Regions from separate parts of the Homo sapiens genome. Here all the other regions are linked to region 1. Evidence: fine-mapped expression QTL. A gene starts in region 1. Each other region holds a variant in brackets. All regions are shown on one strand. Distances are from middle to middle.

Region 1 (7,386 bases):
AAGACTTTTAGAAGTATCTTGGAGCCTGACCTGTCCCAAAGTAGGCAAGGCCTAGGGCCATTTCCATTCAAACTCCTGGGATCAAGTGATTCTCCTGCCTTGGCTTCCCAAAATGCTGGGATTACAGGCATGAGCCACCTGGCCCGGCCTGTGGTGTATTTTAAATGTTTATATTTAACACATTAACACTTTGAACATAAAAGTATACAATGACTACATCATTAAACTCATTTGAGTATAGTATCAACATTCTAAATTTAAGGTAGAGCCCAAAGAGCCCTCTTGCTTCCCCTCGATAGCCCTTAGAGTCTGTGAAGAAAGCTCTTTTTCTAAGTCCCGAATGATTGCATAATTTCAACAGGCACCAGCAATCATTCATTAAGTGTACTTGTTCTTCTCAGATAAAGTCTTCTGATTTTAGGTATAGAGAGATCACCGTATCTCCTTGCCACAGCATCAGTCTCCTCATTTTCCGCCCTTGTCTGTTTGTGTTGCTATAACAATACCTGAGATTGGGTAGTGAAAAGAGGTTTATTTGGCTCATGGTTCTGCAGGCTGGACAAGACGCACGGCACAGACATCTGCATTGGATGAGGGCCTCAGGCTGCTTCCACTCCTGGGAAGGCAGAAAGGGAGCACACCTGTGTGAGGCACATGGGCAGAGAGGAAGCTAGAGAGAGAAGGAGGAGGTGCCAGCTCTTTTCAACAACCCGCTCTCTGACAACTCACTCATGCCTGAGGGAGGCATTAATCTATTCATGAACAATCTCTCCTCAGGACCCAAACACCTCCCATTAGGCCCCACCTCCAACACTGGGGATCAAATTTCAACATGAGATTTGGAGGGAACACAAATCCAAACCATAGCAGAGAAGTCACCAGGAAGAGTCCTGATTGTCTCCCTGCCCTGGCATCAGCCTCCTCATCTAAACTCTGGGAGCAGTAACCCCTTCCCAAGCTGTCTGCCCCTCCAGAGTGTGTTCAGGGTTATTAGTGGCTGGCAAGCAGGGGCTACTCCCTGGATGAGAGGGCAAAGTCTCTCATAGGGTGAGATGATCCTGTGGCAATAAACTAACAATGCCAATTAGCGGTGCAGACATGTCCTATAGATCAGAAATGAGGAGGAAGTCCCAAAGGGCATTGAGAAACTTAAATCTGGATTTTGGGGCTTTGTGTCAAAAGCTTCTGAACATAGCTGTGGGTAGAGAAGATGGAACTGAACAGAAAGACAGCCAGGCCAGCTGCTAAAAAGTTATGCCAGCCTCGGTGATAAGACAGAGATTACTGTGGGATCACAGACTGCTATTTTGGGAACATACATTATTTTCTTAAAAGCTGTTTATATTTTCTGTAATTAGGTCCTTTTTGTTCTGTCTTATGTTAACACATTTAAAAATGCTAGCCTGGTCAGCTGTGTTAAGAAGAACCAAGAAAGAGATTTTCATTCGGCTTGTCCAGAGTTTTAAAGGGGAAGTGGCTTACTAACCGCCTGACATAGTGGAAACAGAGTGAGATCCTCAGAGAGCAGGTAAACTGAGGGCAACTTGAGCTGTAAACCCTTGTTTAGAAACTCTCCCACACTAAGATACATTTATCAAATTTGTCTCCATCTCTCCATCCCCACAGTCTGTTACTGTCCTGGTGGCCCAGACAAGAGAGAAGAAGGGACCTCAATGAACAATGAAAAGGAAGAGTACCCTGGGATTGGTGGTCCAGGGATGGGAGGAGTGGGTACCTATGGAGTTTGCCCTCCAGAATGGAGCCCGCAAACAGAAAATCTGATTGTAGCAGTCAGAGAGTAGGGGGTGGAAGTTCAGTGTGAGCATGAACTTCTGAGTGCCAAAGTACCTAGGCAGGCAAGTTACCAAATTTTTTTTTCTAGTTAGGGAAGGAGAGGACATATAGATGACAGGAGGACTTCAACCAATGCCTAGGTAGGGGACATGTGAGGGTTAGTGGGCTAGCATTGCTCCTTAAGCAAACTGGGGCACAGAGCAGAGTTAATGTAGCTAACTGAAACTTAACAGCAGAGAAGAGGCAGGATTAGGGGAAGAGAAAGGCTGCCGATTGTGGACACCTGAGGACTGGAGACCACCCACCCATCAGGCTGGGGACAGTTGAATCATTCAGGACCCCACCAGGTTCTATTTGAACACAGGACTGGTCCTCTGGGGCTGCTGCTTGAAGAGCTTTGGTAGCTACAAAATGTCCCAGCCTCAGTTCTGCCCTTACCATCTGCTCCAGTTATCTACTGAGTAACCTACCACACCAACACTCAGTGGCTTAAACAACAACAATCCTTTATTTTGCATTTTGAGCAGGGCTCAGCAGGGACCACTCACCTCTGCTCTGTAATGTCTAGGGCCTGTGACTCAAAAGGCTAGGGACAGCTGGGGACTGGTGGGACATTTCTCTTCCTACAGACTCAGGGCTTCTCCCCACAGTCTTTCCCATGTTCTCTGCAGCAGTCTCCGGGTAGCTGAACTTAGGGGTGACTTGAGGCTCCAAGAGCAAGAATTTGCAAAGGCCCCAGCAGAAGTTGCAAGGCATTTATGATCTAGCTTCAGAAGTTCCAGGATATGGTCATTTCCACTGTATTCTATTGGTTTAACAAATTGCTAAAACCTGCCCAAATTCAAAGCGAGAAAGTATAGACCCCACCTCTCAACGAAAGGAGTAACAAATAATTTGCCACCATTTTTAAACCATCATGCTATCTCACCAAGTCCTCAACAAAGCCTCCTAACTGATTTGCTGTCCTCAGATTCTCATTAGTGACAGATCGGGATGCAGCAATGCGCAGAGTAGAAAAAGTGAGGGTTTTGGAAGCCAACAGCCAGCCCTACATCCTGGTTCAAGCAGGATCCACCACTCAGCAACCAGTTGAGCTTGTTAGGTTACTTAACTCAGAGCCCCAGTGTTCTTGAGTGTAAAATGAGGATAATACACTATAGTTGCCAAGAAAATGTACTTCTTGGATCTTGCAGTGTAGATAGCATAACTGACCAATGGCTCCGCCTCAACTGCTGAGCTCTGCTGAAATCCATACCCTGATATTTATCCCTAGGTTGCTGCAAAGGCCAGCTTCCTAAGGCTGCTCCCAGCTCATGACTGAGCACAGCAGGGATACTAAGGCGGGCCTCTTTCTGGGAGATGCCAGACTTCTGGGACAAGCCCATTTGGCTAAAGGATTCCCCACCCCAATGGCCTTGCTGAACTTTTTATACATGGACTGTATATATATCAAATGCTTCCTTCCACCCAACCTTCCTTCCTTGCTTGCCTCTTTCCTTCACAAGGATCACACCTGCATCCCAGGTCCAGCTCCCTGTTTTCCCTCAAAACTCTCTTGCATAGTACCCCCATCTGGGACTGTTTCTGGAGGACTGGGACAAACACAACCTCCTATTCATAGGACTGCCAAGGGTATTAAATGAGTAGAACTGTGCAAAGAAACTAGTAAAGGGCTGGCGTAGAAGAAACACTCATTTAACGAACACTTCTTGAGTCCTGGCTGTGTGCAGGTCTTGGTCCTGGGTGTCTGGGACACCACAGTGAGCAAAGCAGGCAAGAACACCAGCGATGCCTGCTTTAAGCTCCTTCCCAACTTCCACATCTTTAACAGGATACCAAGAGCCCTTCAAAGTCTGACCTCTTGGGGCCTCAACACCTCCGACTCCACCCCCTGAACACCTGAGCCTACAGTCAAAAGGAACTTCCTTCTTGCTTCCTACAGGTTTTGCTCTTTCACCCCCAATGCCTTTGCTCACCGTTTCCTTCTCCGTGAAATGCCTCCTCCTCCCTTTTTTGCACATCTTCCATTCTTGCACATGCCCCTTACGTGACAAACTTATGCATCCCCCAGGCCCCAGTTCAATGTGGGGCCCTAGGTCATCCAGGCAGAACATGCTTGCTGGCATGATCTCAGCAGGCACCTGGTAGAAGCACTTGCTACATTGTGTTGTAATTGCGGTAACGGTGTCCCCGCTAACTTGCGAGCGCCTCTAGAGCAGGGGAATGTCCCAGCCACCTTGAATCCCCAGCGCGTGGCCCATGGGAGGCCCTCAGACCTATCTGCGGAATGAGTAAATGAGTGTGTGAACCAGGTTCGGCAATTTCGGTGGGGCGAGCGCTGGGCCTGCGGTGCAGGGCGCTGGGAGCGGCCAGGCCGGGCCTGGCTCAGGCGCCGCAGCCACTCAGGGCCACCGGGGACCGGCCGGGGAGGGCGCGGGCCGAATCACTGCCGCCGCCGCAGGGCACATGACTGCGGCCTCCGCCCCCGCCCGCCTCCCCGCGCAGTCGCCGGCGGTTGCCTCGCGGGGTTGCGGCGAGCCCGGCCCGCGAACGTCACGTCCCTGCGCGCTCCCTGCACTCTCCCGAGCTGCGCTAGGCGGGCGCCACGGCTGCCCGGCGAAGGAAACCGAAACCGAGTCCGGGCCCGTCCCTCCGCGGCCCCATCCGCCCGGTGCACCCGGGGCCGCGCTCGCCAGGCCGCGGAGCCCAGAGCTGCGCGCACGAACCGTGCGCCGGGAGGGCGTGGGCGTGGCGCCGAAGGGTCCCGGGTCTTCGACGCCTCTGCGGCGGCTCCTCCCTCCTTGCAGTTGGATCCCTGGCGGGTGCGGCCCGGCCCGGCCCGTGAGCGGCGCACAGAATGGGCCGATGCTGCTTCTACACGGCGGGGACGTTGTCCCTGCTCCTGCTGGTGACCAGCGTCACGCTGCTGGTGGCCCGGGTCTTCCAGAAGGCTGTAGACCAGAGTATCGAGAAGGTGAGGCGGGGCGGGCTGTGTGTGTGTTGTGGAGTCGTCCAGCTCACCCTCCCATCCCTGCTGCTACATCTTGTATGGGAAAGACCAGCACTCAGGCAGACCCTCCGCGCTAGAGCTCTTCTTGCGTCCCTGTCTTCCAGGGCTTGGTAGGCGAGGGTTAAAGAAGGATGAGGAAGGATGGAGCCGACTCTGTTCCCTTTACAGTGATAAGTAAGGCTATGGATCCTGACTTTTAAAAAGGCCTTCGGTTGTGTTCTGTCGTTTGCATCTCTCCCCACTCCTTCCGTCTACACCCCAATCTCAGGTGGGCCCAAACTTGTTTCCTTCCCACTTCATGAAGAAACAGAACTGAATGAAAGACACCGCAGAAGAGGCAGGTTATGTTGTCTGCTTGCTGTAGCCTTTGAAGTGGTGTGCGCCTGGGGATGAGACGTGGGTGTGCGGTCTATTGTGTTCTTGCCCTCTTGGGCTGGGCAGGGGCAGTTGGTAGCTGGGCCAGTCCTTTAGGCTGGGTGACAATTCATCCATCAGTCTTTGCTGAACGCTGACTTAGTGGCTTTGTATCTTGTACCAACAGTCTGTGTTGCTTTGTCTCACCATGAATTCTTGTTTTTCTCAAACGGCCATAATTTTCAGGCACAGATGCATTTAGATACCCTACAAGAATCTGAACTTGTCTCTTCCTCTAGATGATTGGGCTGGAGAGCCAGTCCTTTAAGAAGACTTCATCTTTTGATTTCACTGGTCATTTCATCTGCCCTTTCCCCCACATCCACCAAGCTGTGTCAAAAGAGGAACAAAAGAGAATTACTGGGATCATTTTTTCCTTAAAAAAGAAAAATAATCACTGGAGCAGCAGCCTTTCTTGTTAGCATCCATAACTGCACGCTTCATTTCTCCCACTGGTCTGCACTTGCTGCGGCCAGATAAAAAAGCCCAGGCCTAGTCTACTTTGAATCACTGCACTCTCCAGTCAGTAAAGCTATTTTATTCCAGGTGGCAATGGATATCTTCCTTTAACTGAGTTTCCAAAAGTAATTAAGTGAGTACCTGAAATCTGGCAGTTAAAGGCAGTTTTTCAAAAAGCACCATGGCAAAGCATAATGTAATTTTTAAAGTTCACATTGCCAAGGGAAGACAAGGCCCACTGTCTGAGCGTCTCGAGGGTCAGTTTCCTTTGAGCAATCATGTTCAAGGAAAAAAGAAACTGAATCCTTTCTCCACTCCTGTCCATGTCCAAATCCATGGTGAGCTGTGTTTGAGGATGTAAACTCTTGCTTTGGGTGACTAGAGTAAAGCAATCCAATTATAGTAAATATGTGAGTTTTCTTATATGGCCTTGAAAGGCTGTTTCAAGGAGCCCTATAGGATGAGTGATCTTCCCCGTGGTTCCCATATAGCCAGCCCTTAGATTCTCTGTGTGTCTCCATTTCTCTGGGTGAGGGGGTGGCTGTAAGGCAACTTGGCTGGGGCCTGAGTTTGTGTTGATATTTCCAAGTGTTTTTCTCCATGAGGAATGGACTCTGTTCTGATAAGTAATAGTACAGGGAAGTGGACTTTCAGAGCTGCTCAATCCCAGCTAAGGAGGACTGCACGGTGTATTGTATGAAACTAAAGGACAGGGCTAGTTTCAGTGGGCAGGTGTGGAAATACTGTTGTCATTAGAGGTAAGTCACACATCGCTATTCTGCTTTTTCCTGGATTACCTGTAGGGTGGTAGGTAGCATGGGACAGTGGGAAAGATTGAGGATGTTACACTCCTGGGCATGAAACCTAGCTTCCACTATGTCCCAGCTCGGTGACCGTGGGCTGTTTAATCTTACTTGATTCATGTTTTCCCCATCTGTAAATAGGGATAATAAGGACTAACGATCACATCTGCTTTGTCAAATAATTCTTATAACCTTAAGGTGTGATCTTTCTGGGATATAGTTAGTGCTTAATAGGTGATAGCAACTTTATTTTTATTAGAAGCCACACAAAGAAAATACGTGAGATTTGGAGTCAGATTCCATATGTTCAAATCCTATCCTTGCCAGTATAAGCTTTATGACTTACGTCAAATAACTTACTTGGTCCTCAATTTCATTGCTTGTAAAACTGGGGATATGAGCTGTTAGCTAACTTGGGCACAGTGATGCATTTACCATGAAACTCGCAAAGTTAAGCTTTGGGTCTCTCACTTGCACAGACCCTTGCGAAGCCCTGTACCTCATTCTATATCCCAAATTTTCTTTTTTCTTAAGAAGGACCCTTCAAATTGTATAAGCTTCAGGACCCACAAAACCTGGATTTGTCTCTGCATGTGTATTATTGTAGGACCAAGTATAAAGCACTTAGCATAGTATCAGGCACAGAATAGGTAATCAATATGTGGCAGTCATCTTTATTGCCACTAGTATTACTATGGGAGAATTCATTCATAACTTGATTCTAATGTAGTTATAATATAATCTACTCTGATATTTCCAGTTCTTTGTTTTTTCATTTGAAGATTGTCTATGCCCCGACTTGTCTATGTCAAAAAGGGAAGAGGGAAAAGGGATGAAATTCAAATGAGTAGGTGTGGGAAGCTTAGTAAGAGAATTCCTATCCAAAAAGTTGTCTCAAATGATAAT
Region 2 (7,640 bases), 52 kb before region 1:
GTGTGTGTCATGGCCTAGCCAATAAGCATATTCCATCTCCTTAATCATAATGGTTAATTCAAGCAAAAGCATGTGCCCCAAGTTAGTCCAGTGAGAGTAATTCCTGGACTTTTCCCTAATGGAAAAGCTTTGCTGTCTTCACACTTAGGTTGCTCGCTGGTAGGATATAAGCTTGGAAATTTTAGTGGCTACTTTTGCCATTTCTTGGGGAAATATTGATTGAGAATGAAGTCCAAGTTGCACAGCCAAAAGATAGGAACAACATCTAAAAATATTTCAGCACCTGGATCCAGCTGTGCCTGAAGTTCCTACTATATCTGGATGCTTCCCTTTTCTCTCTTAAACCAATCTGAATTATATTTAAGTCACTTGCCAATGAAGTAAGTAGCTTGATGTTTAAAGTACTAAAAAAAATACATTGACTAAAACTAACACTCAAAAGATGGGGTGGGGACATGGAATGCAAATCCTAAAGACCTTAAATCCAAGAAAAGCATCAGGTATTTAGACATCTACAGAGACTCAGGAACAGGAATAGGCAACTATATAGGTTCTTGGAAGGCGCACAAGGGAAGACCTTGATAACTGAGTCAAAAGTCTCTTTATGTCAGATTTTTTTTTTTTTGAGACAGGATCTTGCTTTGTTGCCCATGCTGGAGTGCAATGGCATGATGACAGCTCACTGCAGCCTCGATTTCCCAGGCTCAAGCAATCCTCCCACCTCAGCCTCCTGTGTGGGAAGGGGCACACCATCATGCCCAGCTAATTTTTATTTATTTATTTATTTATATTTTTTTAAGACGGAGTCTCTCCCTGTCACCCAGGCTGGAGTACAGTGGCGCAATCTCTGCTCACTGCAACCTCTGCCTCCAGGTTCAAGCAATTCTCCTGCCTCAGCCTCCTGAGTAGCTGGGATTACAGGTGCACACCACCACACCCGACTAATTTTTAAATATTTTTAGTAGAGACAGGGTTTCACCATGTTGGTCAGGCTGATCTCAAACTCCTGACCTTGTGATCCACCCACCTTGGCCTCCCAAAGTGCTAGGATTACAGGCATGAGCCACTGCACCCGGCCTAATTTTTATATTTTTTACAAAAATACAAGAGAGACAAGGTTTTGCCATATTGCCCAGGCTGGTCTTGAACTCTTGAACTCAAGTGATCTGCCCGCCTCAGTCTCCAAAAGTGCTGGGATTACAGGCATGAGCCACTGCACCTGGCATGTCAGAACATTTTTGTGTGAAGATTATAATCAAGGAGTACCTGCCAGAGTACTTCTAGGTAAATCTAACTAAGAAAAATGAGTTGAAGGAGTGAAAGAGAGAAAAGAAAGTCCTAACAATAAAATGGAAAATAAAAATATGAAACAGCTGCAATGATGTGAGATGTAAACATAAACATTCAAATTAGCAGCAAGTTTGCAACCTTTCCAGAAATTTCATCTACCAGAAATATTTCTATTTATACATAATAGAAGAAAATGATTCCTTTACGACTTTGAGGATTTGACTTAGATTTTATCCAATACTGTTTTTTAATAAAAGCAACTTTGAGCTTGACATTTAAAAGTAGGTTTAAATATTACCACTAACTTACAAAAGTAGTAACCCACTTGCAGAAGTCACTAACTGCTTTGCATACATTTTCATGAAGACCAGGACGAGGACCATTTTCATGGAGCAAATCCATTTTATGTGGCTTTTCTTCATAAAGCCATTGGCCTGCGTTTGACACAGACGTCTTCTTGGAACTAAAGATAAGATCATTAAAGAATTACAATATGAGACACAATGAATCCAAATGGATTTCAAACAGTTTTAGAGGCAAAAGGAAATCATAAAGCAAGTATTTCTAACAGTCTCTTGCAAGCTCACATACAAATTGTATTTTAATTTTTCAAAGAGCACATTCTCATTACGAATATCATAAAGACAAGTATATCATGATTAGTTATAATAATTAAAACTTACATAGCATTTACCATTATAAGTTGATTTTTTTAAATTTTGAGTACCATTTATTAAAACATGTACTGGGTAAAAGCCCAAATTACTGTGCTTGAAGTCTACCAAAGCCTCAGGCAACCTTGACAAGTAGGAGTCATCCTTGACTTCTCTAACATTCTTAAAATCCAGCTCAGTTAAGGTCTGGCAGATTGTAACTGTCTCCTTCTCTGGACTGCTGCAAAATGCTAGTGTCTCTGCATCATCAACTCCTATGGCTCCCCCAACCTCCAACCCCCAATCCATTCCCTACAATGCATCCCAAGCAGTCATTTCAAAATGTAACTCTGGACATATCAAATGCAGCCACGCTTCGTCACCATCAATAGCTTCTTTATAAAAATTGAGATATAATTCATCCACCATGAAATTCATAAAATTTACCACTTCAAAAGTGTATGAGAGTACCCTTTATATATTCACAAAGTTGTGCAACCACCACCACTATCTTATTCCAGAACATTTTTATTACCCCGAAAGAAACCCCGCAGCCATTAATAATCACTCACCATTTCCCCATTTCCCTCGCTCCTGGCAACAACTAACCTACTTTTCTGTCTCCGTAGATTTGCCTGTTCTGGATATTTCATCTGAATGGAACCATGCAATATGCAGTCTTTTGTGTCTGGCTTCTCTTAATTAGCATAATGTTTTCAAGGCTCATCCATGTTGTAGCATGTATTAGTAGTTTATTCCTTTTTATGGCCAATACTCCATGGTCTACATAGACCACTTTTTGTTTATCCATTCACAAACATATCCAGGTGATGGACTTTTGGGCTGTTGCCACTTTTTGCCTGTTAAGGACAATGCTGCTATGGATATTCATGAACAAGCTTTTGTGTTCAATAGCCTCTTGCTATTCCTCCAATAAAGACTTAAATCTTGACACAACCTCCAGGGCTCTGCATGGCCTGGCTCTCCAGGTTCTTTGGGACCCACCACCATTTTTTACTCTCTGAGCTCCAGCCAATGTGGCCTTCTCTCAGTTCTGTGAATTCATGCTGCTCCCTCCAGCCATTGGGCCTTTGCTTGAGCTGTTGCATCTGACTGCAATGCTGTCACCATTTCCTTATCCCCTTCATATCTCAACATACATGTGCCTTCCTCGGGGAGGCATCCCCACAAGCTGTCCCCTGAAGCTACTCTTTATTCATAGCCCCTGTACCTTTTATTCATAACACTCATATTAATTTATCCACCCATTCATTCAACAAATA[T/A]TCAGTAAGCACAGACTATGTGCCAGGCATTAGAATTGAACTGTAAATAAACTTAAGCCCCTGTCCTCATAGAGTATACAACTGAATAGGAGAGACAGATAGTAAACAAACATATGCCGGGTGATTATAAGTTATATAGAGAAAGTAAAATAGGACAGGAGGGGGATGGAGAGTGATGGTAGGGAGCATTTTATTTATACAGAGAAGTTGTCTCTATTAAAGTAATATTTGACCAAAGACCCAAAAGAAGAAAGGGGTCAAACCATGTAAATGTCAAGTCATGCAGATAACAGACAGAAAAGAATGGCATGTGCAAAGAGCTGAGCTGGGAGTGTGCTGAGCATGTCCAAAGAACACAAAGTCCCGTGGAGCGGAGTAATTAAAGAGTAGAATAGTAGAGGATGAGGCTTGAGAGGTGACAGGGACCTAATCATACAGTACTCTGAAGGCAGTTGTAAGGACTTTGGATTTTACTCAGAAAAATAAGCAATTGGAGAATCTCAAGCACTGGAATGACACGACTTGACTTACATTTTTAAAAGGATTATGTCAGCTACTGTGTGACAAATAGACTTGAGAGAGGGGAGCTTGGGTGGAGGCCATGAGACCAGTTAGTAAGCTATTGCAACAATCCAGGCAAGAGGTGATGGAATCTTGGAATAGACTGGTAGTAGTGGAGAAGGTGAGATTCTGGATACATTTCAAAAGTAAAGTCATTACCATTTGCTGGCAGATTGCAACTATTGTTCCAGAAAAAAACTGGAAAGATGGGGTTCCCATTTACTGAACTGGGGAAGACAGAAGGAGGAATAAGTTCGGGGGAGAAAACAAGAGTTCAGTTTTGGGTTTGTCTAGTCTGAGATGCCAATTATACAACTAAGGACAAATACTGAATTAACCATATACAGATGGACCAGAGGAGGTCACTTGGTTGTGAGTAAACGTGCTGAAAAGACGTCAAAGACCAAAGTACTTCAAGGCTAGAAGGTAAAGAGCGGCCAGTAAAAGATGACTACGGAGAGGTCCATGAAAGAGGGATGTTCCAGAAGCCAAGTAAAGAAAGTGTTATGAGAAAGAGGACATGATCAATTACGTCAATTGCTACTATGTATACAACAAGTATGGTGATCCCTGAGAGCTGATTTAGTTAACATAGAGGTCAAAGGAGACCTTGACTAAGGTCAGGTCAGTGGAGTGGTGGAGATAAGAGCCTGATTGTTGTTTGGAGAGAAAAAGACTAAGTGAGTATGAATGCCTCTTTCAAAAAATTTTGCTCTAAAGGAAAGGACAGATTATCTGGTGAGTGGAAGTTGGTGTCGCTTGCATCCTGCCAGCACCTGGATGTGTCCATCAACCCGGAGGTTCATCAGATATATGTGTTCAAGAGTTTTTAATCTTCAGCCACGCCCCTCTCTTTCCCCTCTGAGAGGTCACACTGAGTGGGACTGAACATTCTAACCCTCTAATCACTTGGTCTTTCTGATGACCAGCCACATTCTAAGACAATCTAGGGGCCTCAACCTGAGCACCTCATTAGCATAAACTCACCAGTGACTAAAAGGGGCTCCTTATGAATAACAAAAAGCATTCCTGTCACTCAGGAAATCCCAAGGGTTTTAGGAGCCCTGTGTCAGTAACTGGGGACAAAGACCAAATATATTTATTATATCACAGATCCCTACATATAACACTCCTCTCGCTCCCTCACCCAAGTTCTGAGCAACTTCAAAAACAATACAGAGAGCAAAGACAGTAGCCAAAATATCCCCTTCACTGATAACAGCAGCCATGATAGACGACATGGCTTTAGGTCCAAGAGGACTTGCTAACTGACACTCAGAAATTGGCAGACCCTTCCACCCAGTCCCCTGCAAGGCTGGACCAGGACAGTCCTCCCCTCTAGAATGGGGAAGCAAGGAGAAATTGTGCTTCCCATGGGCCATCTTGCTCCTCATGGAGGAAAGGCAGAACTGAGACAAGCACGTCCAGTTACCCTTCCTACATTTACCAGGAGGTGGACTGAAGAGTCAGAAATGTCCTAAGACTAGAGTTCCTCTCACCTTGTGTCTTACCCTAAAAAACATATATAATGTAATGCAGTAGATTCCCTCTAAATCCACCTCCACGTAGGTAATGTGTGTGACCAACAAGCTCTACATGGCCCCCACCAAACACACTGACCACAGTCCACACTCCTCTAAGTGTCTGGGTACTGTGGATAGGCTACTCTCTAGTTCACCGTACTCTTCAGCACCCATCAGTGAGGTCTTTAATTTCAAAAGTCAAATGTAGGCCCGGCCCAGTGGCTCATGCCTGTAATCTCCACACTTTGGAAGGCAGAGGTGGGCAGATCACTTGAGGCCAGGAGTTCAAGACTAGGCTGGCCAACATGGCGAAACTTTGCCTCTACCAAAAGTACAAAGATTAGCCAGGTGTGGTGGTGGGCACCTACAGTCCCAGTTACATGGGAGGCTGATGCATAAGAATCACTGGAACCCAGGAGGTAGAGGTTGCAGTGAGCCAAGATTGTGCCACTGCTCTCCAGCCTGGGAGACAGAGCAAAACTCTGTCTCAAAAACAAACAAACAAACAAAAAATGTGTATCCCAAATCTATTTGTGTCCAGTAAACTTATCACTGCGTTTATGTTATTTAATTAAATATTATATTGACTGGGGAATCAAGAATGTGTTACAAAAGGGAGGTGCTTTCGTTAAGCTTAATGCTTTGAGAAGGGTCAATGAAGGTAGTATTACAGGTATGGTTTATGCAAAAAAGATGGGTGGAAACTCCAAGCAGTAGACCTATACTCAGAAAAAAGGCTTAGGTCAGGCATGGTGGTACATACCTGAAGTCCCAGCTGCTCAGGAGGCTGAGGCAGGAGGATCATTTGAGTCCAGAACTCAAGGCTGCAGTGAGTTGTGATCTCTTCACTGCCCTCCAGCCTTGACATTTCTTGGGGCACAAAGGATGATACCCCAAAAGTATGGTGCTTTGGCATGCTGAGCACTTTTGAATTAAAGGAAATTGGAAAGCCTTAGAAGCTGCCTCAAAATCAAGGATTTTCTAACCTTCACTGTTTCTACCCCTCAAGCATAGGGAGGGACTCTCTCTGGAATTTCCTTATAGACGCCTGTGTCTGCGTCGTCGCTGGATAAATCACATCCCTTGAAGAAATAAGCACTATTTAGAGCGGTACCTAGGACTCCTTTCCCTCTTCCTTGGGAACTTAGTTACATTTGCTTCATTAGAAGTATTCTAAAGATGAGAAGTTTTAAGAAGGTAATTCCTAGAATGTTTCATCAGGTGACAGCAATGATCGAAGGGTTAAGAACAATACTCACGGTCCCAGGTAGACTTGGGTAGAATGTTTTTTTAAAAGCTTCGTGGGTTCCTTCATTCCTTTCCTGGTGTCCTGACAATAAGCCCATGTGTCCTCCAGCTTCCGGTCAGGATCAAGCACTTCCAGCACCTTTGATAAGAGCTACAAACAGAAAATAGTCTTAGAGGAAAAGAAAAACATGCTGAAGAAGGGAGTCCCCATTCTACAACAAAACAGACCAACTTGCCCTTCACTTTTCCTTTTCAGTCCATCAGTGCTGTTCACCAACTTCTGTGCCAAGTATTATGCTGGGTGCTATGGATAGATTTGGACCATATCCCAAAAGGCATAATCCCAAATGTTAAAATCCTAAAAGATCATAATCCCTAAAGTCTAAAATCCTCAAAATCACAATCCCCAAAATTAAAATCCCAAAACTATAATTCTGAAAAAAAATTGCAAAAAAAGTATTTTAAAGGCACTTAAATTTTTAGATGGAGATTTATTTGAGAAATGTAAAAATGAGAGAACACTTCATTGGCCATTTTACACAACGAATTAGGCAATAACAATATACATAGTTTTGCAAGCATAAACAGTCAGGTGTACTAGCAGTCACATGGCTATAATATGAGCAGGGAAACCATATTCATGAAGAAATAGCTCAAAAAGTGATATGTATAAACGCATACCACTATGTTTGGCAATTGTGTGCACTCTGCTTTATAATTTCAGTCATCTGAAACACAGTGATGTACAACCTAAGCCTTTTGACAAAATCAATCAAAAAGCACAATGGGGCCAGGCACAGTGGCTAAGGCATATAATCTCAGTGCTTTGGGAAGCTTACGCAGGAAGATGGCATGAGGCCAGGAGTTTGAGACCAGCCTGGGCAACATAGCAAGACCTCTGTTTCTATTTAAAAAATTTTTTTAAATTAGCCAGGCATGGTGGTGCCCTCCTGTAGTCCTAGATACTTGGAGGCTAAGGTGAGAGGATCCCTTGAGCCCAGGAGTTTGAGGTAACAGTGAACTATAATTGCACCACTACACTCCAGCTTAGGTGACAGAATGAGAACCTGTCTCAAAAAAAC
Region 3 (7,640 bases), 110 kb after region 1:
TCCCTTATATAAAATAGCATACATAAATAAATAAAATAGCATACACAGTATTTGCATATACCTACACACATCCTCCTGTATACCTTATACTATCTCTAGATTTCTTATAATACCTAATACAATGTAAATGAAATGCAAGTAGTTGTTGTACTGTATGGGTTTTTAAATTTGTATTATTTTTTCCCACAAATATTTTCGATCCACAGTTGGTTGAATCCCAGAGGATACAGAGGGCTAACTATAGCTGCATTGTTTTTTAAACACTAATCTCTGCAAGATGATAAAAAAAAAATAAATGTTTTTCCCTCCATACATACACTGCTGGAGAAACTCTTTCCCTTTCATTTGAACTAGTGGAGAGGAGCAGTGGAGTCCATCCACAGGATAAACTGTTTCATGCTGACCTAAACTCTTTTTGTTTGAACTACGGGGAAGCGTTGACTGGAAGTATCCAAATGGGATCACCACTCAGATTTCATAAATAAAACCAAGAAAAATAGCCAGTCAGATTTGTAAAAGCCTTCATATTATCAATGTACTTGCCATAGTTATAAACATGCAGTTGGATGTATACACACAGAGAAGTGGATAGGCAGATGCACACATGCATTAGTACAGTCGTGCAATGCATAATGATGTTTCCATCAATGACAGACCACATGTATGACAGAGATCCCATAAGACTATAATTATAATAGAGCTGAAAATTTCCTACTGCCTAGCAACATCGTTGCCGTTGTAACATATTACGTGTTTGGGGTGATGATGGTGTAAATAAACCTACTGCACTGCCAGTTGTATAACTGTATAGCACATACAATTATATATAATACATAACATTTGATAATAAACAACTATGTTACTGTTTTATGTACTTACTATACTTTTAATCATTATTTTAGACTGTACTCCTTCAACTTATTAAAAAACGTTAACTATAAAACAGCCTGAGGCAGGTCCTTCAGGAGCTACTCCAGAAGGCATTATCATAGGAGGTGACAGTTCCATGCACGTTACTACCCCTGAAGACCTTCCAGTGGAACAAGATGTGGAGGTGCAAGACAGTGATATTGATGATCCTGACCCTGTATAGGCCTAGGCTAATGTAAATGTTTGTGTCTTAGTTGTTAACAAAAGTTTAAAAAGTTAAAAAAAAAGGTGATAAAAAAGCTTTATAGAATAGGATATAAAGAAAAAATATTTTTGTACTACTGTACAATGTGTGTTTTAAGCTAAGTGTTATTACAAAAGAGTCAGATTAAAATTAAGTTTATAAAGTAAAACAGTTACATTAAGCTACGGTTAATTTACTATTGAAGAAGGAAAATTTGTTATGAATTTAGTGTAGCCTCTGTATAGTATGTATAAAGTCTACAGGAGTGTACAGTAGTGTCCCAGGCCTTCACATCCGCTCAACACCACCCAGAGCAACTTCTGGGCCTACAAGCTCCATTCATGTTAAGTGCCCTATACACCTGTACCATTTTTTATCTTTTATATTTTTACCATAACTTTTCTATGTTTAGATACACAAATACTTACCACTGTGTTACCGCTGCCTACAGTACTCAACACAATAACATGCTGTAAAGGTTTATAGCCTAGGAGCAGTAGGCTATACCATGTAGCCTACATGTGTAGCAGGGTATACCATCTAGGGTTGGGTAAGTACACACTATGATGTTTGCACAACGACAAAATCACTTAACACATTAATCAGAACATACCCCATCTTGTTAAGCAATGCATGACTGTATGTTACCACAGACCAGTGGTTCTCAGGGGGGCATTACTGCCCCAAGAGGCAGTTTGGACGATTGTCAAGAGTTTTTTGTTTTTTTTTTTAATCATTGCTAACAGTGGAGTGGAGGTAGAGGGATAGATATCCTGCAGTGCTCTAGTTCTGGACCATGAAAAATTGACCAACTTCCTGCACAACTTTAAAATGTACTGCTAGACATACATGTAAGTTAAAACCTATTTAAAATAATCAAACTCAGAACCTAAAGCAGTTTTATGTATATTTTTAATAGTTTTGATAAACATTAAACATCAGTTTTTATTTAGTATCTACTCTATTTCTTCACTCCATTTTCTTATACTTCCTGTATAGAATAGCTTCCAATCTTCTCTTCAACCCAAATTTATTTGCATAAATGTAAACATCGGTCTACTTTAGACATGATGTTGATTTTTATGGGTACAAATGCATCTCATCTATGGATCTTCTTTCTGGATAATATAAGGACTTTATAAAATACTTGTTATAAAGGGAGAATTGGGTTGAGAACCACTGTTCTTTTTTTTTTTAATATATATTTTCTTTTTTATTTTTATATTTTGCTCCCAGTCTTCAGACTGGTAAGAACCACTGTTCTAAGAGTAGAAACTCTAGATACAATGGAAAACGATTATCGAAAAAACAAAGCTATATTGTCCCCAACACACACATGCACACACAAGCTTTTGGATATGACATTATACTCTGTTATTAAGATGCCTTAAAACCTTGCAACTTTGTTCCCTTTATTGAGGAAAAATAAATTTCTCACTTTTTCTATATTACAGAAGCAGGCATTTATCAACTGAGGAAATGAGATACTTCTTACTAGGATTGTTGATATTTCCTTGACTTTTATCTTCTAAAATATAAAGAGATTTTGAGTTAGTTATATTGTATATCTGTTTATCCAGAAAAGAAAGATCTGATTAAAAATTAAGCAAACTTGGTTATCTCTGTGAGTGGGTCTGAGGGGCAGGGTAATAGGTTTACGGGTATGTGTGGGGTTAGGGGAAGGGTTTAATTTGTTCTCATCTGTGCTCTTTGAATTTTTTTTCCCATCAATATGTGTTTACATAAAAATAAAAGTTAAAATTTTATTCACAAAAAGTATTTTCTACATATTGAACTTAGATTCCCAAGTACATTAATACCTACTATTGAGTGTTCACTATGTGCCATGCATTGTGCAAATGCTTTATGTACACTGTCACCTTTACTTCTTAGTCTTATTAGCCAGGTATAATTATCCATATTTCACAGATATTCCTTAAAACATTTATGAAATGTTTTGAGGAATGCCATGCATAAAATCACGGGGGTAACTGGTGCTAGAAATATCTAATTTCAAATTTGCTCTGAATTACTATGCTATACAGATGCTTCTCGACTTATGATGGGGTTGTGTCTCAATAAATCCAATGTAAGCTGAAAATACCATAAGTCAAAAATGCATTTAACTCACCCAACCTACAGAACATCATGGCTTAACCTAGCCTACCTTAAACGTGCTCAGAACACTTACATGAGCCTGCAGTTGGGCGAAATCAGCTAAGATAAAGCTTATTTTATAATAAAATATTGAATGTCTCATGTAATCTATTGAATATTGTACAGAAAGTGAAAAAGAGAACGGTATGGGTACTTGAAGTATGGTTTTTACTGAATGTGTATGGCTTTCAGACCATTGCAAAATCAAAAAATCCCAAGTTGAACCTGATAGAGCAGGAGCACCGTCATCTTGGACAAACACCACCACTTTAAATTCGAGCTCCCTTTCTAGCCTCATGCATTTCAAGGAAATCACCTCTTCTAACTACAAGCAGCCAGAAGGAGCAAACAGTAAAACACAGATAAAACAGCTCGGGCACAAAGGGAGGTGGGGGGGAAGTCTCTTGAGTAACTCCCAAACTTCGCCCTCATACAGTGGGCCCCAGTAAAACAGTGGGCCTTAATAAGCACATTCCTTTCTCTTCAGGTGCACTAAGTTAGGGAAGCTAAAAGCAGACTTGGGGAATATGCCTGCAGCTGCAGAATGATGTATGGGAACAGACACACAACGCTCTCTCCCAGATAAGCACAACAAAGAGACACAGAAGCAGTCCAAGCCGCTGATAAACTCTCCCACCCTAAATCCTTAAAAACTCTTAGTCTGTAAAAAAGTGGGCCTCTAACCTAACTCGGCCAGAAGGCGCCTCTCAAGTTTGTTTTCTCTAAAATAAATCTGTCCTAACTGGCAAGCCACCTTTTCGTGTTTCTTACAGACTGACCATTGTAACTTGGAGACCATCTGTACTACCAAGTGTGTGCCTAGCATAGAAATATTATGATATTACCATATTTTAACAGCTTTGAAGCCAAATACCAATTCTAGGTGCCCAGGATAGAAGTGGATAACTAAATCTGTTTGGAAGACAAGTGTAGCACAAAGTGAACAAAGCTTGAAAAGTTTGAGTCCTGGTTGTCTCTAGCCTATTATAAATTTGTTAGCCTTCTTATGTTCCATGTTCTCATCTCTGAAGTGTCAATAATATTTATCGTATTGGATTAAATGAGCTCCTGTGTACTGTTTTCACATCACCTTTTAAAAAGCTACACATAGCTTTCCAGGAGAGGGCACAATACACTGTAGTCCCAACAAAATCTAGTGGCCTA[C/T]TGGACGATTGTAGAGTGTGGTGAGGAGCACACAGAATGGCTGGTCCCAGTATTGGCATGCTGCACAGTCCTCATTCACAGTTCTTGGATGATGCTATTTCTATGTCTACAGATTCCTTCACCCTGAGAAGCCTGCCTCATTCTGGAATAGACAGGCCCAGCTGGAAGCCAACTGTTCCAGTTTAAGATCAAGTGCCTTTTTTGATGTTTGGCCCAGAGAACCGTAATAGCAGCCTGCTGCTCACACTGAAAGAAATTCTCAACACTTTCCCTGTCTGGCTTGCAGACTGGGATATCGGAAAGTGTACAGCCCAGATGTCTTCCCCAGACCCCATAAGACTGAACTAACTGAATGATTATGGTAAAGGACTTAGAATCCATGGTGCCTCCACCCCCAATAAAGAATATATTACCAGGTTTTTCATTCAGTTGTATCATTTTTATTCCTAAACAAGAAAGAGGTTTTCAGATAATAACAAAGGCAGCTACCATTTACTACTATGTTACCACCATTCATTTTGCTAGGTACTTTGCTAGGTACTTTATCTCATCAGTCCTGCAAGACAGAAGCTTTCCTCATTTTACAGATGTGAAAGCAGGGGCGTAGAAAGTGAAGTAACTTATATAAAGCTACTCAGAGGAAAGTGGCAGAGACTTCCTGAAGCCAGGTCTATCTGTCTACACAGCTCATGTTCATCTCCCACCATGCTCGGTGGCTGCCTTTCAGATAGCCAGATGAGCAAGACCCCAATGATGGCACTGTGCAAACTCAGGACTAGCGAGCTGAAGAGATGTAGACGCACAAGGTGTGTCATCAGTGTCACTAGAGGTTCACTTCAAAGTTGTGGCCAAATAAATCCAACAGTGCAAATTTGGGTCAATATAAAAGAGGTCCTGGACCCTTTTCTCTGAGCCTATGTTCTCTGAGCCTTTATTTAACTAATGGAAAACGCTGTTTCTTTATACAGCACGCAGCTTCCATTGACAGCAGCGTTACGTGAAGTTCAGCACTGTGTGGCTGGATATAGTTTTTAAGATGCCAAATATCTAATTTCCTTAACAGATCATCATTTCCATAATAACAAAACCTGCAAAAAAATATTTCAAAGTACTACATGAACTCAGGAGAAAGGGATTTATGCATTGGACAGTGGCTTGCACCCTGAGATTCCATGGTTTTATAGTCCTTACAAATATTCCTGTCATGTACATGTGACTACTGATGGCTACATTTGATAGATGACAATTATGAGGCATAGAAAGTCCCATGCATATCTAATGGTGACTGTACTCCCCAAACTGGCATGTTCCCCTCTGGCATGCCTATCAGTTGCTTACCAGGTAGTGGAAAAGGTTCTGGAATTTTCATTCCTAAATGAGAAGGAAGTTTCCAATGACTTACAGTTTGCTCCACTGAGTATAATTTTCAAACTCTTGTCTGCTGAGCTTAAGAGATGCAAGCACCCAAGGCCCCAATGCACTATAGTTTCTGGCTTTTTATTTAAAAGTTCTGCTTACGTAAACCCTTATTATACAAATCCACACCATGATTAGAGGAGTCTTCTGCCATAGCACTTCACTGAGCATGTTTATGCCAGGAGAATATCGTGTTTTGTTACCTGGAGATACAGGCAATGAGATGTTAGCCAAGACTAACAGTCAACTTGTGCGTAAAGGTAGGTTTCTATTGAATAACTTTAGCTGTAGAACCTGGAAGGTGTTGGACTGATGCATCCAGATCCCAGGAGCCTTCCCCTCAGCAACATCCAGAGCAGAACTAACTTTCCTGCCCCAGAGACAATGCTCCAGGAGCACATGAATGCACAGGAGGAAAGAGACTTCTCTACGCTTCCCCAGCTAAATATTTGTAGATGACTGGCAGGTAGCTATAAGGGAAATATTCATGAATAATAGTCTCATGACAGTATTCTCTTAAATGCCTGGGAATCCTGCTCAACTCATTCTTGGGCTCAGGGAGTAAATAGAAAGCTGTCTTACCAGGTATTTGGGTGGGTTCAAGGATTTTCACACCTAAAGGCAGAAATAAATATTGGTTTGTATTAATCAGTTATCTTATACTGTTAATACTCTTCTTTTGTCTATATTTCCTCCATTTCCAACTTTCAAAAAAAAAAAAAGGCAGGGGGAAAGAAAAAAGAAACAGCAACAACAAAAACACCTTTCAATGGCTCTTCATTCTCCATGTGACAGAGTCCAAACTCCTTAGCCTGGACTTCAAGAACTTCCACGATCTAACCCGTCTCTCCAGCTTTATCTTCAGAAGGCAGTCCCAATATATCAGTTTTTGGATGAAACACTACTGGTTTTACATTTCTGCTTGGTTTAGCTCTATCGTAATTATAGTTATTAGCTCTGTGACTTTGGGCAGACTACTTAATCCCTCCTAACTTTAGTTTCTCACTTTGCAAGAGAAATATTTACCTCTTAGGTTTGTAGTTAGTGAAGATTGAAGGAAAGACTGCATAAAAGTGCTTGGTACACTGCACGGAGCGAAAAAAGGTACTCAATAAATGAAGTCCCTTTGTTCTTGTCTAACTCATTCCTCAAACTCTCCAGGCTCAGTAATATTTTTTTTTCTTTTTTGAGAGACAGGGTCTCGCTGAGTCGCTCAGGCTGTGGTGGGGTACAATGACACGATCATAACTCACTATGATTCTCCTGCCTACGCCTCCCAAAGAGCTGGGATTATAGGTGTGAGCCACCGTGCTGGCTTTTCACAATGTTCTTAATCCTAGGAATCCTTATCGTCTCCTAACCATGTAGCTAGTCTCAGTAAATAGATTATTTCCCAGGTGAAACAGTGAGCCTCTGGCTTTTTATTCCTAAGGACGAGAATAAGAACTATTTAGTAAAAAAATGCCATCAGCTTGAAAATTAATTTGACCTTATACTTGACTTCTGTAGTAGAAAACTCAGAACGCTTTGAGAAATGGCAGAGGACAAGGTAACAAAAAGAAGAGATTTAACCCACTGGAGCCTAACTGATGATAAGAACTAAGGCTAGTGACCCAGAATCTCTCCTAGGTTAAGCACCTCTTGTTCGTTTTTTAAAAATTCAACCCAAAGACCTCGACCCAAAATTGGCATTATATGTAATATATAAAATATGCTTCCTAACTATATAATACGTTATAGATAATTTGGAAAAATACAGAAAATTATTAAAAATTAAAGTTCTCTTAAA
Region 4 (7,640 bases), 83 kb before region 1:
AACCCCTCTCTCCATTAGGGGAATGCACTTATCACCCTCAGCACCTGTCCATTGCTGTCAGACCTCTGGCTCCTGGGGAGCCACATAACATTAACCACAAGTACAACCTCTCTGCAAAGCAGTCACATTGGAGCTGCCCAGTTTCAGGTTTCACAGAGACATTTTCTAACTGAAACTGTTTGCAAACCTCTGACTCATCTTAGTTCCAGAATAGACTCAAGGCTGACATCAGTCATGCTAAGTCATTAAAACTTTAGAAAAGGGAGATCTGTGTTAGACAACTAGCTCACTATCTACAGAAAAATAAAGCTGGATTACTACTTTGTACCACATAAATGCTGAACTCCAGATGAAATAAAGTCCTAAATGTAAATGGTAAAACTATGAATAGAACAAAATCCAGGAAACTGGCAATGTGACATTGCCTAACATAGGAGGCCAAAAACATTTTGACTTCATTAAAATGATGCTATCTGGTCAATGAAGGGTGCCATAAACAGTTACCAGATAGAGCCAAACTGGGGGAAGATATTTGTGTTGTCTAAAACTGATAAGAGATTAATACCTAGCTCTACAATGAACTCGTACAAATTGGCAAGAAAAAGACGCAAGATCCAATATAAAAATGGACGAGGGACGCTCTTTCCTCAGTGCCCAGAACAATGACTGGAACATAATAGGCACAATAATTTTTGGCTGAATAAAATTAGACACAAAAAATGCTTAAACTCATTGATAGTCAGAAAAATGCAAATTAAAACAATGATATGCCATTTTACATCCATCAGAGAGACAAATATTAGAAAGAAGTTGTGTGGTGCTGCTGTTGGGAGAGCCAACAGGTACAAACACTCTGGAAGAGTGTTGTGAAGCTAAGTATGCACATAGCCAATGGCTGTGCAATCCCACTCCTCAACATGTAGGCCCAGGGAAAAATGTGCACAAGACTATAAGGGACATACAGTGTTACTTGGGCCAACGGCAAGTTCAAAGCCCCTGGCTGTTCATCATAGGGTAATAACTAAATAAAATGCGATAGATGCCTATGAAATACTATGCGGTAGTTAGAACAATGAACAAGATCTAGACATAATGTAATTAAATCTTAAATACATAATGGTGACTAGAAAGGCAAGAAACAATGACTTACAGTACAATAATATTTATGCAAGTTGAAAATACATAAACACTCAAAATAGCACTACTGAGGCTTCAAAGATACATGCATATTTAGGAACAATTCTTAACACATTAAAGGAAGTGGTTTGGTGGGCAAAAGTATAGGAATAGGAGTTGGGATAAAAGGAGAATGAATAAATAAACAAAGAGGTCCAGGGTGGGGTCTGGATTCTGCTTTCCTAACAAGCTGCCAGTTGATACTGGTCTGTTGGCCTCACTGTAAGTAGCAAAGAGACTAAGGAGTAAGGTGAACTCAAACCTTGCAGGCTTAAAGAGGAAGTGAGGAAGAATGGAGGGAAATATGAGGGAGGAAGGAAGAGGAGAACAGGCAAGTTTTGAAGGGTGGAGTCAGGGAGAGTCCAGGGCAGGGGCAGCGGGCCCGGCACACAGAAAAGGGAAGAGCCCATGGGTGCCATTGGCAATCTCTGCTTCCTCCAGTCAGACCTGCCGGACCACGCCATGCACTCCAGCTCCTCACACAATTAGATACAATTCAAATAATTGTAATCATGAGTGAAAGACTCCCAATTCCCACCAGGTGCACACTGTTACTAGAGAGAATGTAAGCCAAATTTCTCCTCAGAGAGATCCTCCCCAACCAAAGTTGGCCCTTGCCCTCACTTCCGCAGGCCTGCCCCCTGCTGTTCTCCATCCCTGCACCCCATTAATTGCCCATGTCACTCTCCATATTATCTTCTTTGATTAAAGGTGTGTTTCCCTCACTGGATTGTAAGCTCACAAGGGCAGGGAATTTATAGTTTTCTCCCAGTGACCTATAGGGTGCCTAGTGTCCTACACGGTAGAGGCTCAAAATATGTATTTATTGAGTGAATGAATAAATGAATATCAAGAATGGTCAAGCACTAGCATGTACCACCAAAATATAGGCTGTAAATGTCCAAGAGATTTTTTTAAAAGCATTGACAGTTATCTTCTTGGGAGAGAATGAGGTAGATTAGACCAGGACAGATCTAGCAAAGCCACCATGAGGGCAAAGTTTGGGGTGTCCCTTTATCTCGTTTCTTGTCTTCTTCCTCTTTTTGGTATTATTCTTTTTTTTTTTTTTTTTGTGAGACAAAGTCTCACTCTGTTGCCCACACTGGAGTGCGGTTGGCACAATCTCGGCTCACTGCAACCTCCGCCTTCTGGGTTCAAGTGATTCTCCTGCTTCAGCCTCCTGAGTAGCTGGGATTACAGGCATGTGCCACCACACCTGGCTAATTTTTGTATTTTTAGTAGAGACGGGGTTTCACCATGTTGGTCAGGCTGGTCTCAAACTCCTGACCTTGTGACCCGCCCGCCTCAGCCTCCCAAAGTGCTGGGATTACAGGTGTGAGCCACTGCACCTGGCCTCAGTATTATTCTTTAACTGCTTTCTGATTCCACCCATCCACCCAACCACGGAACTGTAAATATTGTTATCTGTGAACATTTGTCAAAAAGAAAGTTGATGTGTCACCAGTACCTTACAGTGAACTTGTTTGATATTTTAAAATCAGTTTAGAGGGAGGACAAACTAAAATAATGCATTTTTTTATTGATATGTCATATTTGTACATTTTTATGGGGTACATGTGGTATTTGTTACATGCACAGAATGTGTAATGATCAAGTCAGGGTATTTAGAGTATCCATCATTCTATGTGTTGGGAACATTTCAAGTCCTCTCTTCTAGGTATTTTGAAATATATAGTACTTTGTTACTCTGGCGTCAAATATTACAATTAATTCCTTCTATCTAACTGTCTGTATTAACCAACCAACCTCTCTCTTTATTCCTCCCCCACCCCCTACACACCCTTCCCTGCCTCTGGTAACTATCATTTTGCCCTCTACCTCCACGAGGTCAACTTTTTTAGCTCCCAGATATGAATGAGAACATGCAATATTTGTCTTCCTGTGCTTGGCTTATTTCACGTAATATAATATCCTCCAGTTTCATCTATGTTGTTGCAAATGACAAGATTTCATTCTATAGCCAACTTAGATTTCATTATGTATTTGTAAACTATTCATCCAACAAGGGACAAATATCCAAAATATACAAGTAACTCAACAGCAAAAGAACTAATAATCCCATTAAAAAGTGGGCAAATAATGCATTTCTAATGTAAGAATTTTATACCCTGCACACCTACCTTGGAGGGTGATGGGGGAAAGCAGGGCTTCCCCACCTCTTCTAACCAGAATGTGTAATACTGCCTATTCTGCCCACAGTGAAAGCAGGCCCTGTGAGCACACCATTGCTCATGCCCCAGGAGAAAATTGAGCTAAGTCACAAAGAAATGCAATAGACCAAATTCATTTTTAAATGTTCATTTTTAAAAATGTTCACCAATGATAAAAATAAATTCAAATATAAACAATATATTTTAATAGGGAAAAAATTCAACCTTTTTGGAGGCAACTTAGCACTCTATATCCAAAAACCTTAAAGAACAAGACAGAATAAACAACTATGTGAGTGTGTGTGTGTGTGTGTGTGTGTGTGTGTGTGTGTAGCTGCATGTACATATATCCTTTGACATAGCAATTCAACTTCTGGGAATTTTGGGTGAGTAGAGGCCAGAGGTGATACTAAATATTCTACAAAGCACAGAACAGTCCCTCACAACAAAGAATAATAAGAAAAATTCGAT[C/A]CAAAACATCAATATTGCCTGGGCTGAGAAAATCTGCACCAGAGCATGTGATCTCAGGGAAAGCAAAGAGGGAACACAATGCCTTTTACAGTCTAGTTTTGGAATCACACATCGCTACTTCTGCTACATTCTATTCTTTAGAAATAAGCCACTAAGCACAGCCCACACTCAAGAAAAGCAGAATCAAGCTTCATCTTTTGAAGGAAAGAGTATCACAGAATTTGTGAACATATTTTAAGACAAGACCAATCTGTCCTCTAGCCACAAATTACTTACATTCTTTTCATATGTAAAATATACTTACCCCCACAGCCCCACCCTTACAAAATCCTCCCATAACCCCTTTACAGCATCAGTTTGGAATCCAGAATGTTAGAATCTGAATCAGGCCCAGGTACAGATGAAACTGCTTAGATGTACTTCCTAAGTACAATTATTCTAATGCATTTCCTTTCAATCTGAAGACAGAAAGGTATATGCCTATCCCTCCCACCCCCACCCTCTGTAACATCACCCAACATATAATAGTAGAACAGACACAATATAATCACCATATACAATCATATTCCAAAAATAGGAGAAAAATAGAGGCATACAGGAGTCACTGCTCCATGGCAATTCTGTAAAGCAGCCAAGGAAATTGTAGAAGGTCCTCAATTAGAACTTTGTTCAACTAGGAATAATTCTGCATGGCCTTTGTTTCCACTTTCTTGGTTATGTCCTCTGAGTCATCTGTTCTATAATGGAAGCACATATGTGTAGCTGAGAAGTTCTCTCAGTCTGCTTTCTGCCAGTAGAACTATGGAGATCCAGAGGCCTCTTTTCATTTCATACTGTCTTTGTCCCTTTTAGTCCAAGCTGGCAGTTTTTATTCCAATACAATTCTTTGAAAAACTTTACAGATTTCCTGTGACTCTTATTGGGTCCATGCCATTTTTCAAAAGCCAAATCTACAAATCAATTCAAGATAAGCCCTTCTCTACCATGGGCTTCTGGTGAAGAACAACATCTTCAGCTTCTTAGAAGCTTTATTTGTTTGATCAAAAGAAACTGTAGCACACCTAAGAAAATTTTAGGGAGCCTTTTGTCTAGTTGAACAGTACGCTGAGGCAACACCTTTTATCTTTCTGAGGTCTTAACAAAGGATTTAACAGTTACATCCTTACATCCTTGGAGTCTTCTTTAGACCATGTTTTCCTGGCAATGTCCTGGATTTTGTCTTTGCCCCATATCATTCCTTAATTTAAACATTATCTGCTATCCAAGAGGCTAGACATTTCGAAACCATAAAATCCTGGTTCCTCTTTTTAAGCTGTCCTGCTTTAGCTTATCTATTTCTTCTTGCATTTTGCTGTAAGCAGCAAATGAAAACCAGGCAGTATCTTCAACATTCTGTATGAAAATCTCCTTCGTTAGATCATCCAGCTCATCAGCTGCCTTTTCTACATTCCATGTGGGCTAAACTTTTTGCTATTTCATAACAAGGAGACTGTTTCTCCCACTTTCCAATAACATTACCTCATTTTCCTACAAGCTGTCACCTCCTCAAAGGCTTCTACTAACAGTGTTTTTAAGGCCCTTGAAGCTTTTACTAACAGTCTTCTCAAAATTTTCCAGCTTCCACCCCACTACCCAGTTCTTCTCCCTCCCACACTTTAGGTTCTTGTTATAGCAGCACTCCACTTCCAGGTAACAAAATCTATATTAGTTACCTATTACTGCTTAACAAATAAATCTTAAGCTTAATGGCTTAAAACAACAAACATTATAGTGGTTTTTGTGATTCAAGAATTCAAGAGCAACTTTGTGGTTCTGGCTCAGGACCTCCCGTAAGACTACAGTCAGGATGTCAGCAGGGGTTGCAGTCTCATCTGAAGACTTACTAGGGACTGGAGGATCCACTTCCTAGATGGCTTGCCCCATGGCTGCTAGAAGAAGGCTTTAGTTCCTTGCTATGTGGGCCTCTCCATAGACAACTTTAGTGTCCTCACAACATGGCAGCTAGACACTCCCAGAGCAGATGATCCAAGTGAGAACAAGAAGGAAGCCACAATTTCACCTGATGTGATTGGGACTCAGAAATCAGGCATCATCACCTTTCCCACATTGTCTTCATTAGAAGCAAGTCGCTAAGTACAGCCCACTAACTACAGTCACTAACTACACTTGAGTGGAGGGAATTAGACACCACATTTTGAAAAAGTATCAAATAATTTGTGGACTTTTTTTTTTTTTTTTGAAACAGAGTCTTGCTCTGTCGCCCAGGCTGGAGTGCAGTGGTGTTATCTCGGCTCACTGCAAGCTCTGCCTCCTGGGTTCAGGACATTCTCCTGCCTCAGCCTCCCGAGTAGCTGGGACTACAGTTGCCTGCCACCATGCCCAGCTAATTTTTTGTATTTTTTAGTAGAGATGGAGTTTCACCGTGTTAGCCAGGATGGTCTTGATCGCCTGACCTCATGATCCACCCGCCTTTGGCACACCAAAGTGCTGGGATTACAGGTGTGAGCCACCAGCCTGGCCAATTTGTGGACATATTTTAAAACAAACACAAATCCCCAAATCAGGGGCTCTTTGGAATTTTCTAAAGAAATATGTCTTGAAACTGTTGAACTGGGAGAGAGAGAGATAATTGACTGTTTAGTTTGCTAAGTTAAGACATCATTTGAATTCACAGGTTTTTAGGATACCTTATGTGAAGCTAGAACATTGTTTGGAAAAAGTGAGACCCTGAATCCTGAAATGGGAACATATGGGAAGATACGGTGGGCTCCAAGTACCCTAAACTCCCAACCCTATGAAAATATGCTACTCAGATCATCTGCTGCAGAGAGCATCATTGGCTGGTGGACCAAATTGCTGCCTCCCTGGATCCTCCACCCTCACACTGAGGCCATGCTTCTCATGGGCTACCCCTAACCAATGACTGAGCATGCCAGAAGCACCAAGGTAGTCCCATTCTGGCAAGAAGTGAAACTCCTCCTCTAGGCAACTTCAACTTGAGGACTTCCTGCTGGACTGGCGAAACCTTTATTTGAATTGTGCTACAGTCCAAGATTCTTCTTACACCAATCTTCTTTCCTTCCCTTATTCCTTCCACAGATATCAGACAGGCATCACAGTCTAAAGCTCTCTCTATCTTTTCCCATTCCTTCCTTCAGTAAAGCTCAAGAACATCTATTCCCATCTTGCCATTGCTTCTTGGCACACCTGAATTAATGCAGCCTTCCTCGTCAGAGAAAATCTCCCTTCATGATGAGGCTTTTTCCATCTTTCATGAAGACTCTGTAATGTTATTCTTTGTGGGAGTAACCTTACTGGAGGTAGGGGAAAACAATTCTCTTCATTCTTTGCTCCTAACATCCCTCATTGCCTTGAATTCTATAGTCAATAAGGTGCTAGAGACAGGTTGTACCAACTCACAAAGGTCAACTGACAAATTTTCAAGAATTTAGTGAGCTGATTGCTAAACACAACCATTATTAAAACAAATTATATATACTTACAGTTAAATAAATGATGTGAAAAACAAAGATAATTACAAACTCATCACTTCCTAGTTGACAGCTTTTTATTATTATCTATGCTGCTCAGATTATTTATATGTATTATAACTGGGTGTTGGAAATACTCTATAATGGTGTGTCTTTGAATTTTGGAGACCAGATTTAGACATGCTGTTTCAGCTAGTTTTTTTAATAATCTGAGAGGTTGCCAATTTTGAGTGCAGCCTGAAGCAAGAGTATGCTTTCTCACTGGTCCAGGAAGCTCTGTCTTCTGATCCAGTGGATCCAATGTTATTGAAATGCCTGTGGCAGACAGGGC

Direction of the effects. Alleles are on the strand shown, and positions count from the first base shown. SD is a standard deviation of normalised expression in the study named. Not every link is listed here.
For the expression in testis of the gene that starts at base 4,371 in region 1, allele A in region 4 goes with a higher level than allele C (small effect, 0.18 SD a copy in GTEx).

Evidence for each region. PIP is the estimated chance that this variant, and not a neighbour inherited with it, causes the effect.
Region 2: its variant is the best candidate, but not a certain one, in a credible set for the expression of SCARB2 in whole blood (TOPMed, PIP 0.51).
Region 3: its variant is the best candidate, but not a certain one, in a credible set for the expression of SCARB2 in blood mononuclear cells (TOPMed, PIP 0.89).
Region 4: its variant is the best candidate, but not a certain one, in a credible set for the expression of SCARB2 in testis (GTEx, PIP 0.77).

The regions. Positions count from the first base shown.
Region 1 is chr4:76,210,809-76,218,194 of GRCh38, reverse strand. It overlaps SCARB2 (scavenger receptor class B member 2), which reads left to right and starts at 4,371. Exons shown (of 12, transcript NM_005506.4): 1 at 4,371-4,768. The coding sequence starts at 4,652. It also overlaps a transcript of FAM47E not described here. RefSeq lists silencers at 4,033-4,652, 4,566-4,970.
Region 2 is chr4:76,262,773-76,270,412 of GRCh38, reverse strand. FAM47E (family with sequence similarity 47 member E) reads right to left here. Exons shown (of 8, transcript NM_001136570.3): 3 at 6,570-6,709; 4 at 1,645-1,753. FAM47E-STBD1 (FAM47E-STBD1 readthrough) reads right to left here. Exons shown (of 7, transcript NM_001242939.2): 3 at 6,570-6,709; 4 at 1,645-1,753. Among named protein-coding and RNA genes, the nearest start is that of FAM47E-STBD1, 15 kb to the right of the region's middle. The variant T/A (reference allele first, on the strand shown) is at 3,227.
Region 3 is chr4:76,102,763-76,110,402 of GRCh38, reverse strand. ART3 (ADP-ribosyltransferase 3 (inactive)) reads right to left here. Exons shown (of 12, transcript NM_001130016.3): 9 at 6,434-6,466; 10 at 5,774-5,806; 11 at 2,610-2,642. Among named protein-coding and RNA genes, the nearest start is that of ART3, 32 kb to the right of the region's middle. The variant C/T (reference allele first, on the strand shown) is at 4,436.
Region 4 is chr4:76,294,083-76,301,722 of GRCh38, reverse strand. The region is part of intron 6 of FAM47E-STBD1 (FAM47E-STBD1 readthrough); the gene reads right to left. Among named protein-coding and RNA genes, the nearest start is that of STBD1, 8.8 kb to the left of the region's middle. RefSeq lists a cis regulatory region at 236-246 and an enhancer at 169-313. The variant C/A (reference allele first, on the strand shown) is at 3,819.